Linked DNA regions of Homo sapiens. The protein of the gene in region 1 purifies or fractionates together with the protein of each later gene. This does not show direct contact. Each region holds a gene or a part of one and is shown in the gene's direction. Other genes may lie near its edges.

What was found. Proteins that work in one complex are often made in the same cells at the same time.
Region 2: the proteins of TLR5 (region 1) and PRXL2A purify together in Homo sapiens (affinity purification with mass spectrometry; 2 studies listed by BioGRID and IntAct, with this or other methods). This does not show direct contact.

Annotation. Positions count from the first base shown.
Region 1 is NC_000001.11:223,140,232-223,147,727, reverse strand, and holds the start of TLR5 (toll-like receptor 5 precursor), read left to right. Parts: upstream 1-4,479; 5' UTR 4,480-4,532; exon of another isoform or gene 4,533-5,067; intron 5,068-5,964; 5' UTR 5,965-6,080; intron 6,081-7,496. UniProt on the Homo sapiens protein: Pattern recognition receptor (PRR) located on the cell surface that participates in the activation of innate immunity and inflammatory response.
Region 2 is NC_000010.11:80,411,540-80,418,564, forward strand, and holds part of PRXL2A (peroxiredoxin-like 2A isoform 1 precursor), read left to right. Parts: intron 1-2,293; exon of another isoform or gene 2,294-2,334; coding exon of another isoform or gene 2,335-2,337; intron 2,338-7,025. UniProt on the Homo sapiens protein: Involved in redox regulation of the cell. Acts as an antioxidant. Inhibits TNFSF11-induced NFKB1 and JUN activation and osteoclast differentiation. May affect bone resorption and help to maintain bone mass.

The DNA of each region.
Region 1 (7,496 bases):
AGGCATGGAGTTCCTAGGTCTTAGGGCATGTGAATCTTCAAGTTTCCATGACAGTGCCAAACTTCTACCAAGTGGTTATACCAATTCACATTTCCACTAGCAACAAGTGAGAATTCTGTTTGCACCATATCGTCACCAACACTTTTTATTGTCAGACATTTTATTTTTGGCCAATATGATTTATATAATATGTGATGTATTATAGCTTTAATTTGCATTTCTAAGATTTCTAATGAGGTTTGGTACTTTTTCATTTATTTATTGGTCATCTTATATTTCCTCTTTTATGAAGTATCTGCCTGTATCTTTTGTCCATTTTTCTACTGACTTTTCTTACTGATTTGTATGAGTTCTGAAGATAATCTGGATGCTTGGGCTGTGGCAGTTATATGTGTTGCAAGCATCTCTCTGGTTTTGTTTCCTATCTTTTTATTCTTTTAAATATGTCTTTTGATGAACACAAGGTCTTCATTTTAAGGCAGTTGAATTTATCAATCTTTTCCTTTATGAACTCTTGGACTAAGCCTGTCTTCTAGCTATTGTTTTCCGCCTATGTCTCCAACTGTCCCCCCATCTTTGATCCCCCCATTGTCTCCATATAAACATCTTTTCTATGCTCTGGACACATGACTTCAACTGCTCACTCGATGGCTCCACCTCCATATCCCACAGTCAGTCCAACACCAGTTTATCCCAAAATGAACTCATCCCTCCAAGTTCACCTTCCGCCACCCTACCACCCCTAGCTTGTATTTCCTAACTCCATGACTGACACAACTATCCACCAATCACAAAGCCAGTGTCTTGTGAATTTGCCCTGACTGCTCTTTCTCTTATAAGGATCCAGTTTTTCTGATTCTACAATCTAAACCTTGCCCCACTCTGTCTTCTCCTCTACATCTCCAGTGCCAGAATGTAAGTTCCATGAGACCAGGGACCTTGTCCAGCTTGTTCATTACCACAATATCAGTAAGGGATGGTGCTTAACAGCATGAATTTTGCAGCCCAATTACCTGATTCAAATCCTGACTCCATCAATTATTAGGTATCTAAGTAAGTGGAAGTTATATGACCTCTTCTCCCGCAGTTTCCCCATTGGTAAAATGGGGGATGATAATAGTACTGATTCATAGGGTTGTGGTGAGGGTTGAATCAGTTAATGCATGTATAGTATTTAGAAAAGAACAGGACACATGGTAAGCACTCAATAAATATTGACTATTAATATTATACCCTACCACCTAGCATGGGATGGGGTATAATATTATGCATCAAAATATATTTTAAGCATCAACAAATATTTATCATCAAAAAACTAACCATCAAATAATATATATCAACAGAGATGAATGAATGCCACTGCTTTAATTTAGACTCTTATTATCGTTGCTTAGACAATTGCTGTAGCCTCCTAACTGGGCTTACTTTCTGCTAACCATCCCATCCCCCATTCCATTCATTTTACACACTGCCATTAGGGTTATAACTTCTTGTCTATAAATATGAAGGTGTGGTGCCACTCCATTGCTTAACACCATCCAGTGGATCCCCAAGCCCTACAGGGAGGCAGAGCATAGCCCAGACTCCTCAGCAGAACACATGTGCATGAACGTGGGATCTGGTGATTGCCTACCTACCTCTTCAACCGCCTCCATCCTTCACACAACCTGCGCTCCATTTACCAAACCACTGGCAGTTCCCCAAATGAGCCACATTCCTTCATTCGTCTCCTGCCCAGAATGCCCTCCCTCTGTCCCGTCCAGGTGACAAAGTCATCTTTTTCTTTTTCACCAAGTCCCAGATATAGGCACTCCCAGGCAGAGTTAGATACCTATATTATTGCAGCATTTATCAAATTACACTATAACCATTTATTTACATGTCCAACCCTACTCCCCCAGGCTGCAAGCTCCTGAGAGCCAGATCGTATTTAGATTTGTATTTCTGGCAAGAAGCACAAGGGCTACGGAAGCTTAATACACATTTGTTGAATGGATGGTTAGTTTTAAGAAGTACCTAATAAACCTTGGTATTTGTATTTCCTTGAATCTTGTTTTGGTTGCTACCTTTTTTAATGGAAATAGTCACTACTGCTTATGTTTACAAGTTTATTGAGTTCTAATTTTATCTTTTAAGATAAAGATTGCTGATATCATTCATTCACTCATTCATTCATCAATAAATATTTATAGGGAGACACTTGTCAGATACTGGATTTGAAGTGAACAAATCAGACATGGCCCCTACCCTCGTGAGGCTTACAGTCTATTAAATCTATTAAGTATGAAGGACAGGCTGACCTTGAACCAATAAACATGTCCATGTAAAATCATAAATTGAAATGAGAGTTGTGAAGGAAAAGAATAGGTTATAAAGAGGAAGAATAATGGGAGGGACCTAATTTAATTAGAAGAGTTAGGGAAGTTCTCTTTGAAGAAGTTACATTACAGGGAACACTAAAATGTGGGTAGGAGTGAGCTACGCAAAGTCATGGAGAAAGAGTATTCCAGGTAGAAGAAATAGCATGCGTGAAGACCTTAAGCAAGTGGAAGGCAGCTGCTGAGGCTGGGGACTGGGAGGTTGGGGCTGGAAGCAGACAAGCCTAGAGAAGTTGTCAGGGGCTAGACGATGGGGTTTTGACCTAGAATATAAACTTTGTTTGTAGTTCATAGGGAAGACATTGAAGGTTTAATATATGGGAATGACGGGAACCTCTGGCAGGGCTCTGCCTGTGAGCATCACATAGCACCCCGAGGATGTGTTTGCTACTCTAGGTTTCAGTGGAGAAAAAAGCAAGTGACAACCCTTCTGTTCCTGCTCAGCAAAAGCTTTGATCACCAGCCCCCTTCCCCTGAATATACTGGAGAAAAATAACAGAAGTGCATTTCAAGGTCCACATGTGAGAAGACCCTAAGCTGTCCTGGCTGTTCAGGTAGAAGTTGTCATCTTCCTCAATGATCTCGGCTGTTGGAAGACATGGCCAGGCAGACAGAATCTAAAAGTTCTTCCAGGTGTGACATGAGTCCCTGGAGCTCAGTGACAGAAACCAGTGTCCAAAACCAGATGCCACCCTGGGGAGGGGGCTTTGGGAGTTCCTGGGAGGCCATAACACCGTCTGGAAGGCTCCTCTCTCCCACATATTCACAAAGTTGCATGATAAGCCAGGCCCCTGCTGGTCTTGCAGCATCCACCTATGATGCAGAGTAAACAGTGCCACACGTCAAGCTGTCCCCAACCTTGCCCTCGGTTCCACTACCAAAAGAGGGAACACTGGGCTTGCCCCAGCAAGGTGTTATTTATGTCAGGCTAGGGCCACTGTGGCTCCCAGCTCTTACTGCTTTCTAGGTGCCCTTACAGACTTCCCCACTGCCCCCTGCATATGCCAGAGTGTGAACATCCCCTCCCTCTCCACAGCCCCCACAGTGGGGTTCGGGTGGGCAGGGAGGTGGTTTCATCCCTCTACATACAGCCCTTGGAGACCTACCTAGGCAATTTGTCACTCAGGCTTCAAGCTGCCAGCCGAGGAGGGGAGCTGAGAAGACTCTATAATGAGATCTTTGCACTGTAATTAAGTGCCAGGCTTTGTTTTACACCTATCTTTCCCGCCTTGCCCGATCCCACCGCCAAGCTCCTCCAGGCAGTGAGTGGGGAGTGTCAGCTGCTCTGTGATTACACCCCAAGTGGCAGGTGGCAGGGAGCTCCTCCGCCTGCAGTCTGCGCCCCACCCCCAGGCTTCCCCCACCACCAGTCTTAACTCAAGACAGTGCTATTTCTGTCCTTGAACTGGGTTTCACCCCAGAAAGCCACTCCACCGCTTTCTCATAAGGCTACCTCCTTTTAACCCTGTGGTTGCACGGCCTCTGGGGTGTCCATTTCTTTCTTTTGACACGTCCCTTTTCCTGAAAGTTTCAGCAAACCCCATAGGCAGAGGGAGTTAGAAAAAGGAAAAGAGAAGTTAGGGCAGGAGGAGCACTGTTCTTATAGGACAGGAAGGGTCTGTCTTCTCTCTTGGGTCCTCCACACAAAATCGGAGCTTCCAAACACCCCAGCTCCCAAACATATGCAGCAGATTCTGCTGACAGGAATGTGTCACTGTGATCTTCACATTTTAGCCTGAAGTTTAGCCTACCTGAAGAAGCACCGGAGTGGGAGTGGGAGAACATGGGATGGTGCTTCTCTTTGGCCTGGCTGTGCTTTTGGACACTTCAGGTCTTCGGCCTGGGTTTCCTCCTCCGTACGATGAGGAGAGGATGGGAGGGGGCAATGCTGGCATGTGTGATCTCGATAGACACTGTGGAAGTCTGCAGAGACCGGAGCATAACCTCTGCCTCCTCTCCCCGGGCCTAGCCTCTCACAGCCCTCAGAGAAAACCCTGAGCTGCGGCGTGGCCGAGACGGGGGCGTGGCCTGGCAGGTGGGCGGGCCCTTCCGTGGGCGGGGCCGCGAGGTTTTCAGGAGCCCGAGCGAGGGCGCCGCTTTTGCGTCCGGGAGGAGCCAACCGTGGCGCAGGCGGCGCGGGGAGGCGTCCCAGAGGTGAGCGCCCTGCAGCGGCAGGGGATGGGCCGGGGGCCCTAAGTCGTAGGCAGCGCGGGGCGGGGACGCGGCTGCCTGCGGAGGTCGGACTCCTCTCCGCCCTCCTCCCGGGCTGTCCGGGTCTATTTTCCAGTCTATGTCCAACTCGCGCCGCCTCACTAGGCGGCGCTCTCTGCCCCGCGGCACCCGCGAGACGTGGGGTCCCTCGGCCCAGGGACGGGGTGAGCGTGTCATGTGGGTGCCCTGTGCCCGGCAGGTTGGAGACGAAGAGACCTCGGCACAGACGAAGTCACTCACATCCTCGCTTTGAAACAGAGCGGGTCCTTCTTGTGCTGTCTCGCTGTCACTCTCGCCCCCACCCTGTGGAAGAGGCAGGTGGCTTGTCCCCAGTCACTTTCTTCCTTGGAAAAGGGAGACAGAGGGCCATCTCCAGCAGGGCCATGGAAATCCCAGAAAGTCACTGAGCTGCTCAACAAAAGGCCCTAAACACCCCACCCCACAGCACCAGGCAGTGCACACTGGCCAAGACTCCGTGGTAAATATTGCTGGCCTTTATGTTGAGAGGGGGAAAAAAAAGCCTGCCTGTGAAGATCATTGCCCAGTGGCCATGCTCCTGTGAAAACACAATTGGAAAGCCATTTCCTAAGGGGCGAGGGTGGGTCTGGGACCATGCTGTGGCTTGGGTGATTGGTGGTTGCAGGAGTGAGGGTGCTGCCCTGGGAAGGCGCTGAGGCCCTGTTGGGTGGGAATCGACGGCTGCGGCTTTCTCCCGGAGGAGGGAGAGCGGTGTTGTTACCTAGTGTTGGGAACACATCCGTCCAGCACCGTGAACTGCAAACAAGCAGAGTAACCCTAGTGTCCTTCAGATACTGTTGCTGAGCAGTCACCTAGTCAATGAGATGATCTGTTTGGACGGCAAGTGCATCTGTAATGCCGCCCTCTTGCTCAGTGCCTGGAAGAGGCATTGGTGACTCCCCGCTAATGCTAGGGGTAGCTACCGTGCAGGAGCAGTCAGGCTCTTGCAGGGCCAATGTGGTTTCATCAATTTTCTCCTGCATTTACCCAGCCCCTCCGAATTCTGAGAAGTGCGTCCAAGATCTCTTGGACTCCTTGACTCAGTTCACCCTTGTTCTTGTGGGCAGAAAACAATTCCCAGTGTGCCATGCACAGCCAGTCAGAAGGGAAGCCCTGGAGCAGGGCCCTGGGAGAAGTTCTGTGGGGCTGGATGCTAATTATTCAGTTACTGGATTGTGGGGAAATTCCAGGGGAGGTCCCAGAGGAGAGACCGTGCTAAAGCTAATTACTAAGCAGTACAAAAATAATCTCTCTCTCTCTCTTTCTCTCTCTCTCTCTCTCTCTCTCTCTCTCTCTCTATATATATATATATATATATATATATATATATATATATGTAATTTTTTTTTTGAGACAGTCTCACTCTGCCGCCCAGGCTGGACTGCAGTGACACAATCTCGGCTGACTGCAACCACTGCCTCCAGGGTTCAAGCGATTCTCTTGCCTCAGCCTCCCAAGTAGCTGGGATTACAGGTACCCACCACTACGCCTGTCTAATTTTTGTATTTTTAGTAGAAATGGGGTTTCACCATGTTGGTCGGGCTGATCTCAAACTCCTGACCTCAGGTGATCCGCCTGTCTTGGCCTCCCACAGTGCTGGCATTACAGGTGTGAGCCACTGTGCTGGGCCAAAAATAATCTAAATTTCAACAATCAGCATGACCATGCCTGTGCGTATGACCCTAATTATCAGTCTGACTGATTCTTCCTTCCAAAATGATGGCAGAGGATCACCTCTTTGGATATTTACAGCTCTGAGCAAAGCAAAAAGCATGTAGGTGCCATTGTCTGAATGCAAAACCAGCCATGCCAGGTTTTCGGTGTTGTTTCTGAGGAGGGAGCGCCTCTCTGGAGGACGGTGTTTCCAGAACAGTGCCTCCGTTGTTCATTCCCGTGCATCAGGAAGTTTGGCTCTGCTGAGTGTTGAAAGCAAAACTCTCCTGTTTATTTGTCTCTGTATACTAACAGACTTAAACAGCAGACAGCACTGGAATGTCCAGTTACTGCATCCAGATGTGTTTGTTTCACTCTTAACATTGTGGAAAAGAATGCAGAAGGCAGATCCAAAGCTTCAATCAGATTTCTGAAGCTTAAGTGATTCCCAGCCTTGGTCCCTTAATGTGAGAGCAACAGCGTATAGTGTCTTCCGCTCTCTGGGACAAACCCAAGTTTGAGGCATAGTCCCTGCTGTCCAAAAGCTCCTAGGTCTAAGTAGGAAGACAAAACCAGCACCTGTGAAACAATTAGAGCGCAATTAAGTGCGAAAGTATGTGGCAGCATCTGCTAGCTCAAAGAAGACAGCTAGTGCAGACTGACTGGGAAAGGAAGAGAGAGCTTCACAGAGCCAGCTGGTGTTCAGCTTGACTTAAGAATGACCATCAAGGGCTTGGCCAGGCCTAGGAAAGGAAGCATGAGGATATATGAAGCTCAGAATAATGAAAGGCACTTGCTGCCCAGAGCCAATTCAAATTCCTGCCTTCCGGGAATTCTGGCTGTGGGTCCTGCCACTCTCTTCCTCACCCAGCCATGATGCCCTTCTTATAGCATTCTAACCATGCCTTTTTTTTTTTTTTTGAGACAGAGTCTCACTCTGTCACCTAGGCTGGAGTGCATTTGTGTGATCTTGGCTCACTGCAACCTCTGCCTCCTGGGTTTAAGTAATTCTCCTGCCTCAGCCTCCCAAGTAGCTGAGACTACAGTCACGTACCACCATGCTCAGCTAATTTTTGTATTTTTAGCAGAGATGGGATTTCACCATGTTGGCCAGGCTGGTCTCGAACTCCTGACCTCAGGTGATCCACCTGCCTTGGCCTCCCAAAGTGCTAGGATTACAGGCGTGAGCCACCACACCCAGCCTGACCATGCGTTTTTTGTGTGCCTCCTTTACTT
Region 2 (7,025 bases), on another chromosome or scaffold:
AGTTGGGAGACCCAAACCTGAGTCCCAGTGCAGCCACTGACAACCTGCCCTGCCCATGTGACCTTGGACTAGCCAGCTCCTTCTCTGAGCTTTAGTTTCTTCATTTGCTCAGTAAAATGAGCTGAACCAGCGCTTTGAGGGAAGGAGAGGGAAACAGAGGAGACCAGAGAAGGAAGATGAAGCATCCTTTCAAGACTTGTTCACTGAGGGCCTGAGGCAAGGAGGCCCATGTGCACTCTTAGTTTTTTGTCTCCCTCAGCACCTTTTCTTGCTTCTCCCCTATCTCTGCCTCAGGCCAGCTCATTCTGAAGAGGGACGATTCCCTGGGTGGGGCTGGGCTGGGCAGGTGTACCCTTGATGTTTAGAATATGATGCTGTCTCTACTTGTTTCAGACATGATTTAACTCAGCCAGTGCTGATACTTTGTTTCATTAAGACTTTATCAGTTCCTGCCCAGAGGCAGCTCCTGGAACAGTCAGGAGTTAGGCCCAGCAAAGGAGGCAGGGTGAATGTGCACACCCAGCAGAAGAACAGTGGTGGCAGGGGTTCCCATGGCTTTCTAGACATCAGATCCCTGTAGTTGCAGTCACATGGTACTTTAGAGTCTTTGGATGTCAGAGCTAAGACAACCTCATAGAATTTTGAGTTCCTTCCTCTGTATAGATGATGAGATCCAGGCCCCGAGTGTCTTCATACCTTAAGTCAGATTGCCCTGCTAGTGAGCAGTAGAGCGAGGACCCAGCCTAAGGTTACCTAAGTCCCAAGCTAGAGTGTTTTCTTTAATATCAAGCCAGCCCTGTCCAAAATTGCCTTTCATACTGAACTGAAATTGGAATTGAGTAGTTATAAGTTCCAAGTCTGCCTCACTGTGGAATTCTAAGAGTAAAATTCAGATAATTTAATTAACATTTAATGCCTGATAATTACCAGGATCTGTGTTGAGTGCTGGGGATGCAGGAATGAAGACGACAACACATTGTGCCAACATATTGTGGAGACAGACATGTAAATAACTAAAATTTACACAATTCATTTGTGCATTGTGCAGGGTTATGGGTGTGTGCGCACACACATGCACGCTATAGAAGAGGTCAGTGAGCAGTCAGTTGTCAGGGCTTTCAGGAAAGGCTTTGGAGAGGAAGTGTTATGTGTGCTGGGCCTTATGAATAAGTAGGCATTTACGTGGTTGGCCTGGGTCAGAGGGGGGCATCCCGGGCAAAGGAAACAACATGAGCAACACTTGCTGAAGCCAAGCTGTGGAGGGCCCCATCAGCTGGCTTGCTGAGGAGTTTATTGTTAGTGAGAGTCTGAACACAAGGGAAAGGTGTAATCAGGTGGGGGTGTGCTGGGATCGCTCTGACTACGGCTTGGAAAATAAACTATAGAGGACCAGACTAGAACCAAGCCAGATTCATTCTGTGGTTCTTGAAATAGGCTAGGGACAGAGTTATAGGATCCTGGGTTTGGGCAGCAGCAGTGAGGTCGAGAAGAGGATGGGTAGCAGATACATTTTAGAAGATGGACAGAACTTCCTGAGTCGATGTAGGCAGTGAAGGCAAATGAACAGTAAAATGTGAACCCCTGTCCCCCACTGTCCCCCCTCCCTGCCCCCCCATCTACTGAGCCATGGAACTCCAGCAGAGAAATCGACTTTAGTTTTGGATGTGGTACAACCAAGACACCTACAAAACCCCCAAGTGGAAACTTTGGGTCAGAACAGCAATAGGAACTTGGAAGTCAATAACAAAGTGGTGGGAGAAGTGCTGGAAGTCACCCAGGAAGGGAGTGTGGGTTGAGGGAAGCCACCGATGTGGCAGAAAAGGAAGGGAAAGCAAAAGGAGGTAAAGAATAGACAGCAGATGAGGGGCCTCAGAGGTGCCAGCTGACTTTCCAGGCCTGGGGTGAGGAATGGGGCAAGGGAGCAGGCTGCACGAGGAGCCACAGAGAAAAGGACATCTTCTTTTATTTGCGCTAGTATGACATGTGGGCTGTGTTACGAGCTTTGCTTCTTTAGTCTGCACCGGATAGCAGAGGAGTCTGGTGGCACTTGGGAAATGTTATAATCTGCATGACTGCAAATGACTCAAAGCTTTGCTCAACTTTTTGAAGGGCTAGGGGGCCTTGGCAGCTTTCCATTTAGATGTTTTCTGGAGACTGACTGTTGGCAGCTGAAGGAGCCCCAGGGTTTCTGGGTGGCCTGGTCCTGCCTATGGAGTGACTGAGCCTAGGGACCTAGTCCCGCCTCCAGCCCTCCCCTTGCCGCCTGCCCAGGCCCGTCTGCTCACCCCTGGATATACTTCTTTGTCAAGAGAAGCAGAGGTGTGGACGCTGTGTATGGTGAGTGCCTTGTTCCCAAGTTTGAAGCGTCTGAGGTTGGGGGTAAGAGACCGTTTGAGGAAGGGAGTTGCCTTGTATAGGAAAGAGACAGGGTCTCGAAGCTGGAAACTGAATTTGGGGCGGTGGGGGCAGTGTTGAGGAGCCTAGAATGTTCTGACTCCAAAGTGACCTGTTTTTGTTAGACTCATAGGATGTCACTGGGGATCATTAGGAACTTCCTCATGGAGTTGAGAAAAATGGGGCCTGGGGAGGAATTGATTCAGCTTAGCCTAGGGAGCCCGACTGGGTCTCGTCCTCTTGCACCCATGTTCAGACCAGAGCTGCCACTCTGAGCTGCCACAGCTGTTGTTTGTTTGTGGCTTTATCCTACTTCACCTTCTGTGGGAGAGGGTGGATCAGATAAGCCCAGCAGTGGGGAACTGAATGCTATAGCTGTGTCAGGTGGGGGCTGGCTCTTCTGTAAACAACCCTACTATTCTGTTTCAGAGAAACTGACCCTTTCCTTAATGGAAGGGGGGATAGAAAGGGGGAGGAAAGAGAAGGAACATCTGGTGTATGGTAAATTTCCTTTAGAGTAAACATGGTTTGACTGTACACGATGACTGAAAAAACAAGGTGATTAAAAACACATTCTCTTTAAGACAGAGGGAATCATACTCCTGGATCTCCAGGACCGACTTCTTTCTTCTTTTCTTTGTTAATCAACAATTACAGCAGATGTAAACCCACTTCTGAATGTGTGGCGAGGAAAGGTAGTCTTTCAGGCTTTGGAGTCCTATTCCTGTTGACTTGGGTCCAGGTTGTAGTACTGCTGCCTGCTGGCTCTGTGACACAGGGAAGTTACTGAACTCTGAACCTCAGTGTTAGCTGCTAAACAGGATAATCTTTGCATCACAAGACTGTTGAGTGAATGAAATTAGGCCATTACTGACAGCTTCTAAGACGACTGGCTGCAGAGGTACGAAGGATTGCTGGCCTCCATACCTCTGCAATCTTAGAGACCCATGTGAAAATGCATCATTTCTGTTTAGAAATTAAAATTCCTTTGATTGTCCTTTTTTGTGTGTAGGAAAAATTGTGATTTCAGAATTCAGGGTCTGCTCACTGTGCAGCAAGTCACAGTAGTACGTGCTTCAAGACATGCCAGGATGGGAGTTGCTTTGTAGCCCAGGGGACTTGGATAAGAGGCTAGGCCTGTGTGCTCTCCAGGTATTCCTGGAAGTGAATTTTCTGTGCTTCTCTCTGGCACAAGAGTGGGCTGCTAGAGGCCCACTGGGTGCGGTCTGTCCATGGAGAGGCCTGATGCTCACCACTGGTCCTGATAACACTCTCAGCATGGTGCTGCAGTGCCTGAGGATGGGGTCCACTGCCCCAGAGGGCTGAATCTCTGCTCACACTTTCAGGATCACAGTGGGAGGTCAGAAGACAGCACTTATGGGGGTTTTGAGGTCTGGATCTTGTACCCAGCCCTTGAACTTGAGGTATGGAGATGGGGGTCTTTGGAACATAGAGGTTTGAGTTCTCAGGGTTCCTTCAGCACTGACACCTGCCCCAGTCAGCCTGCTGTCTCCCAGCTTAGCTGGCCCCATCCCAGCCTAGCCTGTCCATGCTGCCTCCTGTGTCCTACACCGGCTCCAAAGCCACTTCCTTCTGGGTGCTTCTGTGGCTACCCAGACTGGCTGTTATTCCTGCACCACCATAGCCTCATGCCCATACATTGCCCAAGCTGCCTCACCTTCCCACTTGATATTTTTTTGTTATTTGTGTACCAGGTCCATATTTTCTTGAGGATTGTGTATCATTTTATGTCCTCCCAAATCGCCATTTATTGAACAGGTCAGTACTGAATAAATGTTTGGAAATAAATGTTGAGTCTAGTTGAGTTGAATTCTCTTGTGCCTAGGAGCAAACATGCCAAACGCCCATCACTGGACAGTGGGAAGGTGGAGGCTGTTTGAGTGTGGCAGGGGTGTGTTGGAAGAATGTGGAGCTGACTGTGAGGGGCCCTGGACTTTGTGAATGCACTGATGTGTCCTAGGAGTCAGAGTCCATTTGTGGGATAGATGTAAACTGGTCTTTGTATACTGACGCAGAAATGCCCATCAAATCTGTGATCAGAGACCATTCTATGTGCTCCTGAGTCATAACACAAGTCAGAAATCCAGGAACATTTTGGAAGTGCATAAAGGTACAGAAGTTGTTCCAGGCTCTGGGAAATCTCTTGTTTACAGCAAGCAGATAAGAGCTGTGGTTTTCCTCCTAATTGTTCTGTGAACTGTCATCCAGTAATGTGTAACTTTGTCAAATTAAAGAATTGGAAGCAGGCCTGTGGCAGGTTCTTTCCTGTTTGTCCCAAGAACTTTAGTTGTCCATAAGCCATTGTCTCTGTAATTCAATTCTGTTGAATTCATTTCAGCATGCACTTGTGGTGAGCCTGCTTTGTACCAGAGGTGCGCTGTGCTAGGTATGAGAGATTCAGAGATAAACTGCAGAATGTCACCAAAGGAGAGAAATCTGACAGGTCCAAACCAGTGTGTCAAGCACATCAGAAGAAATGTGGGTGATGTTTGGGCACAGAACTGAGGAGGGGGTGAATCAACACCTCTTGGGGGTAGAAGTGGGAGGCTGGAAGTAGGGGGCTGGCAGAACATCAGGGAAGCCTTCTTAAAGAGGCCTCTGAGTTGTGAAGCACAGAATGAAATAGGATATTCCAGGCAGAGGGGTAGAGATGTGTGCACGTCTGTAATGTTCTGTTCTCAGGGTCTTGGCGGGGGGCCCAGCTCTCCAAGCCCAGACCGCCCTCGTGACTTTACTTTATTCTGGTGGCTGATGGCCAACCAAGCACGAAGTCCTGAATTCTTTGCTCTAACACAATGCTTCTCAAACTTTAACGTGCTTATGAATTGCCTGCCAGTCTGACTAAAAGGCAGTATAAGATTCCTTAGTTCTAAGGTGGGGGTTGAGATTCTTCGTTTCTAGATGGTGCCATTTATTGGTTACATTTTGAATAGTGGGTAGTAAGAAACTCTTCTTTCTCAGCACAGGTCCCTCATGTCAGACTGTTGTACCCAAGCGAGTTAGTGAGAACGCCACACTTTGAGACGAATTAAGAGTCCTTTATTAAGCGGGTGGCCAAAGAGACGGCTAACGCTCAAAATTCTCTCGGCCCCGAGGAAAGGGCTTGATTAACTTTTATACCTGGTTTAGGAAGGGGAGGGGGACTCAGATGCAATAATTCTACAGAAGTAAAAACATGCAAGAATCAAAAGAAGCAAAATGGTTACAGAGAGATAAACAATTTAAAAGACAAATGGTTACAAAAAGAGCAACGGTACCAGGTGCAAGGCTCTAAATCTTTCATTATAATTAGATATAGGGAGTATGTCGGACCCGAACTCAAGGCTTTATGTTGTTATCTCTTTAAGAAAAATCCTGGGAACTTCATACATTGTTGGTGCTAGTACCTTATCAGTTAATTGGGCTCCTTTGAAACGCTGAGGATCTGCTTACACAGGTCAACTCCTTGCGGAAGGGGGTTGGGTAAGGAGCCCTTAGTGTCTTGTAAATTAAGGGGTCAATTGGAGTTTGTCTGGCTTTCCCAGCTAGAAAGAGTCTTATTTACAGGAGAAGCAAGGCTAGGTGATTAAAGAGACAAGCAGGATAAAATTCAAAGTAGCGAGTTAGAGTAAAAACAAGGTTAGGCATTTCAAGACAACCATAGCAGCACCCCCTTCCCCAACACACACAGGCACTGATTTTCCCCTTCTTTTTCCGCTTCCCAAGTATATAGATGCCAAATTCCTCTTTCTTAGATGTTGTTTTTTGTTTGGTTACCCCCGTTACCTGGAACTTCTTTTCTTCTTCTTCATCTTTTTTTTTTTGTTTTTTTTTTTTTAAAGACAAGGTCTTGCTCTGTCACCTAGGCTGGAGTTCTGGGCTATAGTGATCCTACCACCTCAGCCTCCCAAATAGCTGAGACCACAGGCGTGTGCCACCATGCCCAGCTAATTTTTTATAGACAGGGTCCTCCCATGTTGTCCAGGCTTGTTTCAAACTCCTGGGCTCAAGCAACCCTCTTGCCTCAGCCTCCCAAAATGCTAGGATTACAGGCAGGAGCCACCGCACTCAACCAAGGTTCTCTCTTATTCCTTTTTTTTTTTTTTAATTATTTTAGATTCATGGGGTACATATGCATATTTGTTACATGGGTATATTGTGTAGTGATGGAGACTGGGCTTTTAGTGTACCCGTTATCCAATAGTGACCCTTATACCTGATAGGTAATTTTCACCCCACCCTCCCCTCTTCAGCTGTCCCCAGTGTCTGTTATTTCTGTCTTCATGTCCATGTATACTATTGATTAGCTCCCACTTGCAAATGAGAACACGTGGTATTTGATTTTCTGTTTCTGGGTTAGTTCACTTAGGATGATGGTCTCCAGCTCCATGTTGCTGCAAAGGACATGATTTCGTTCTTTTTTTATGGCTGCCTCTTTTGTTTCTTAAATCTGAATTTCCATGTGGCTTCAATGCTAGTCTGGCCTACCCTTTCCTTCCCAAAGTCACCACCAACTCACTCCCACCCCCACCTCATGCAGTGCACCCCTCACAGCCCCCACCCTTGGCAGTGACATTTGGATTTCCAGGGCCTTTCCTGATCCTTTAGAGACATCCTCTCCCGGCCAAGTC